Regions from separate parts of the Homo sapiens genome. Here region 2 is linked to region 1. Evidence: fine-mapped expression QTL. Tissue or cell type: whole blood. Region 1 holds a variant in brackets; the other region holds the start of a gene. All regions are shown on one strand. Distances are from middle to middle.

Region 1 (2,683 bases):
TCTTTAAAAAGGTAAGGAGCTGGGCGCGGTGGCTCACGCCTGTAGTGCCAACACTTTGGGAGGCCGAGATGGGTGGATCACCTGAGGTCAGGAGTTTGAGACCAGCCTGGCCAACATGGTGAAACCCTGTCTCTACTAAAAATTCAAAAATTAGCTGGGTGTGGTGGCTCATGCCTGTAATCCCAGCTATTCAGGAGGCTGAGGCAGGAGAATTGCTTGAACCCAGGAGGCTGTGGTTGCAGCGAGCCGAGATCACGCCACTGCACTCCAACCTGGGCGACAGGGTGAGACTCTGTCTCAAAAAAAAAAAAAAAGATATTTGCTACTGATTTACCCTAACTGATACTGGTTGAGTTTAGAGTATAATTCAGACACTTTATGTATTTGCATAAGCCCCTGGATGGTGGTCCTAGTTTTCCATCCTTTTTTATAGGACTCTGGACAATTAAGGGCTCTTGTGTTGCAGTGGTAGAGGCATCAGAAGGCCACAGATCATCCAAAGCTATCATCCTCCCAGGCTTCCATAGCTAAGATTTTGAGTCTCAACGTTGGCCATTTTTTCATGTGTCATGGAGTGTTTCCAAAGGGCACACATTTTTGCCACCTTCAGTCCTAGAGGAGGACCTGGCTCCTCATGAATGACAAGGTTCCCTGAATGTGGGAATTAGTTTAGGTGCCAAGTAGATCCCCATGTGACTATTTGATCCCCAGCAATCAGCCTGGAAAATTCTAAGGCTGCCCACAGATGAGAGGCAGGAGATCTTCATAGCCCTTGCCAAGTGCCCTCATCCCTGCTTCTCTGCAAAGATCCCTGAGTATTTACTGCCTAAGGGTTGTGCTGGGTCCTAGCAGTGCAAAGAACAAGCCATGGTGCTTGCCCTTCTGGAGTCTGGTGGAGGAGGTGGACATCTAAACAAAGGCAGTATAGAAATAAGTGTATGATGGAGGTAGATCCATATTACTGTGGGGGCACAAGGAGGGGAGTGGGCATTTCTGTTGAGGGAGTCAAGGTAGGCTTCACAAAGGAACCAACAGTTAAGCTGAGTCTTGTCAGTTGATGCATGAATCAGTTGACATGAACTCCTTTTGTGAGTTGTCTGAGAAATTCATAGGTAAGGACGGGGCAAATGTCTCAGAGCGAGCAATATATACAGTGCCTCAAAGGCATGAAACTATGTAGCATAACTGGGTTCAACCCTTTCCTTAGAGATCTAATTCTTTTTTTTTTTTTTTTTTTTTTTT[TTG/T]AGATGGAGTATGGCTCTTGTTGCCCAAGCTGGGGTGCAATGGTGCGATCTCAGCTCATTGCAACCTCCACCTCCCAGGTTCAAGCGATTCTCCTGCCTTACCCTCCTGAGTAGCTGGGATTTCAGGTGTGCACCACCACACCCAGCTAATTTTTTGTATTTTTAGTAGAGATGGGGTTTCACCATGTTGGCCAGGCTGGTCTTGAACTGACCTCAGGTGATCCACCTGTCTTGCCTCCCAAAGTGCTGGAATTACAGGCATGAGCCACCGCACCAGGCCAAGATCTAATTCTTTTTAATGGCTTTTAAGTTGTACGGATGATTACTATTTAGTTTACTATTCCCCTACTGATAGAAATATGTCTTGTTTAATGCCTTTGATAGCCGGGAGCAGTGGCTCATGCTTGTAATCCCAACACTTTGGGAGGCTGAGGTGGGCAGATCCCCTGAGGCCTTTGATATTACAAAGGATGGTGTACCAAGAAATATCCTCATGGAAATCCCCGTGAACATGTGCAAAGGAATCTGTAGGTTACATTCCTAAATGCTGAGTCAGAGCATCTCAGCATTTAAAATTGTGATTGCCTTCAGAAGAGGATGCACCAATTTATCCTCCCACTAGTGGTGGCTTTGTGTAATTGGACTTTGTAAAAATCTTTGACACATTAAGCTGGAAGTCTGCAAACTTGTTCTGTAAAGGGCCAGATAGTGAATATTTTAGGCTTCTCAGGCCATCTGTGTCCCAGCTGTTCACCTCTGCCTTTGTAGAATGAAAGCAGCCACAGCCAATCAATAAACGAGTGTGACTGTTCCAATAAAACTATGTATGGGCCCTGAAATCTGGATTTCATATGATTTCTACATATCACAAAATAGTCTTATTTTGATTTTTTTCAACCATTTCAAAATGCAAATCTATTCTTAGCTTGCTCTCTGCACAAAAACAGGCAATGGACTAGAATTGGCTCACTGACCATAGTCATGCCTGTAAGAGTTAAAGAAAGAAGAAAGAAACATGAAACGTGGCTTTGTAGTCAAAGACAGGTTTTCTTTACTTAAAACCTGAGAGGCTTCCCGGCTAATTTCGGTTAGGAGCACTTTCTCTTACAGACCCTGCACTTGATGGATCACCTGGCACCGCCCAAATTGATAAACTGGCTCATCTGATCTTGTGGCCCCCATCCAGGAACTGACTCAGTGCAAGACAACAGCTTGCACTCCCTATGACTTAATCTCCCACCGGACCAGTCAGCACTCCTGAGTCACCTGGCTGCCCCTGGCACACCAAGTAACCCTTAAACACTTCAATCCTTGAATGCTCTGGGAGACTGATTTGAGTACCAATAAAACTCCAGTCTCCTGCACAGCTGGCTCTGCGTGTGCTCTTTCTCTATTGCAATTCCCTGTCTTGATAACTCAGCTCTGTCTAGGCAAAGGGC
Region 2 (2,683 bases), 79 kb after region 1:
CTTTTTAATCTAAGTTCATAATTACCGTTTCTCTAAGTGCACAATTGTTGTAAATATAGCCTTTACTCTCAACAGCTTTTGCCAGCTAATAAGAGATTCAGATAGGATTAAAGAAGATTAGCAAAGAGGGCAAATGAAGGGTAAAACAAGCGTCTGCCAAAAACTGAAGAGATAAGGCTTGGATGTCTTCAACGTGGCTTTCTAGAACATATTATGTCACTCCGAGGCTGGCTTAACGCTTCTAATACACAACAAAAGAGTAATTAACGTTTTAAAAGTCACCAAACTCTTTAAAAAGCAACGCAGGAAAAAAAGATCCCAAACTAACCAAGTCGAAGTTTTACAGAAATTAAATGAGCTATTACAATGGGAAAACAAAGACTGTATCTTAAAATATAAAAGCACAGTTCTCTGTGCTCATATTCACAAATTATTTCAAAGCTTATACACAAAAAAAGTCCACCCCGACGAAGAGATTAAACGTCCTGCCCGGTGCCTGCAGTGGAAGCAGGCGGTGGCGCGGTTGGGGGAACTTTCTCCCTCCCGGTCAAGCCTCGGGAATTGAAGGGCCGGGGAGGCGGGGCCCGATCGAAAAGCTGGAAAGTCACTTTTGTTTTCACCATTATTTCACTTAATGGGTTGTGTTTCTGAATAAATAAAGTCAGATAACTTTGGCTTCCCTCTTTGAGAATTCCGTTATCATTAGAACAAATGTCTGTTTCTTTTAAACGATTATCTAACCACATTTGCATACAGCTCTTTCCTTGTAGGATTGAGATTACTAACCACTAAAAACCAGTTTTATTGCTCTCGACACCGCACTCTCGACCTGTCCCTAAATTAAAACGGATTACTTGCAGAAAAGGGACAGTTTTCGTCACACACTTTCTGATCCGACTCTGCAAACCAGGGCTCTTAAAAGGCTCCAGGGACCGCGTGGTGGAAGGAGGGGGCGTCCCCGGGCGCCGGGAGTCCGGCGCCGTTGGGGGGGACGGGGGTGTGCGGAATTCCACTTTCACCTGAGCGTCCTTTGGGATGCACCAGCGAGGGCTGGAGTCGGACCTAATTCCTGTTTTTCTCCCTCCTTTTAGATTTTGCAACAGTTCTGAACTCAGTTCCGCTGCCTCCCTGAGACCCAATCCTGCCTCTCTGTCCTAAAAACAGTTTCCACCGCCAGCCCAAGCAGCAGGGGAGCAGAGGTGGGAGATCCCGGAGGAGAGTTTAGGGGCGGGGGTCTCAGGCTAAGGGACGCCCGGCCGTCATCCTCCCACGCCAGGCCGGCCCCCGCGGTCCAGGAGGCGGGAAAGTGGTCAAGAGGTCTGGGAGACACCGACCGCCTTCCCTCGGGCTGACCACTCCCGCCCGCTCCGCCCCTCCGGGGACCCTCCTCCCTCCAGTCCTTCCCCTACCGGCGTCAGGGACCGGTCTCCGGGCGGAGATTGGCCCTGGTAGCACAGGGCGCCGAGGGGACATGCCCGGCCAGCCTCGCAGGTCGGGCTCCGGCTGGGTCGGACAGAGGGTGGTGGCCCTGCAGCCCGCTGGGGATTACCTGTCCGCGCCTGCTGCTTACCTCGTTCGCTCCCTTGTGAAGCTCCGGCGTCTTGTGTGTTTCATCTCCTAGGAAACGGCGGGGGCAGCAGGCGGGCCTACGGCCGGCCCAGAGAGGGCGTGGCCTCGCGGGAAATCCCCGCCAATTCCCGCAGGCCCCGCCTTCCCCGGGGCGGGGCTTCATGGAGCCGGGGGACTGTCGGCTGAGCTGCAGCAAGTGTGCCATTTAGACTTGGGGTTTAGGGGAGTTGATTACCTTTTCAGTCAGGTCTTTGTCAGAAGTTGGTTTGTTTGCCCTTTATTTTGTTTTGGTTTTGTTCCGATTCATTCTACAAAGTCTTGATTAATTAAAATATGGTTCCCAGACCGGGCAGAGCAAGAGAAGGAAGTCTGTTTGCCTCATACTTGCACTTGTTTACTTGTGCCTGGGGAAAAACTGTTCTTGTATGCAGTTCCTTAAATTGGTCAATTCCTTGGGTATGTATTACCTCTTGAGCTGCCCTTCTAAGTTTGTTTCCATTTATTCATTCAGAGAACCTGCCTAGTATCAGCCACAGAGTTAGATAGTGGTAATTCCAAGAAAAATGACTGAATGTGTGAATAAATGGGTAAATTGTAACTAGTCTAGAATTTAGAGAGGAAGGCACACTTGTGTTACTGCAAATAGTTCAGATTGGCTGGCAAAAAGGGTCTACGAAACAGAAACATAAGTGATGAAGCAGTGGTGCGGCAAGTTAGTAATTATTAGGTGTCAGGATGTGGGCTTGGGACCAAGAATAGCGCCAAGGTAGACACGACAGACATGCCTGTGGCCCTCACAGCTTAAAGTGAAGTAGGCTTTCACGCGTATGTTTATGGCAGCACAATTCACAATTGCAAAGATGTGGAACCAATCTAAGTGCCCATTGACTAATGAGTGGATAAAGAAAATGTGGTATATATACACCATAGGCTGCTACTCAGTCACAAAAAAAGAATGAAATAATGTCTTTTGCAACAACTTGGAAGAGTGGGAGGTCCTTATTCTACGCAAAGTAATACAGGCGTGGAAAACCAAAAACTGTATGTTCTCACTTATAAGCAAAAGCCAAGCTATGAGTATGCAAAGGCATACACAGTGAAATAATGGACTTTG

The links. PIP is the estimated chance that this variant, and not a neighbour inherited with it, causes the effect.
Region 2: it holds the start of MAK, and the variant in region 1 is fine-mapped to the expression of MAK in whole blood (INTERVAL, PIP above 0.99).

The regions. Positions count from the first base shown.
Region 1 is chr6:10,757,692-10,760,374 of GRCh38, forward strand. It overlaps a transcript of TMEM14B not described here. Among named protein-coding and RNA genes, the nearest start is that of TMEM14B, 11 kb to the left of the region's middle. The variant TTG/T (reference allele first, on the strand shown) is at 1,243.
Region 2 is chr6:10,836,933-10,839,615 of GRCh38, forward strand. It overlaps MAK (male germ cell associated kinase), which reads right to left and starts at 1,607. Exons shown (of 15, transcript NM_001242957.3): 1 at 1,571-1,607. RefSeq lists a silencer at 1,670-1,799 and enhancers at 2,020-2,079, 2,130-2,289.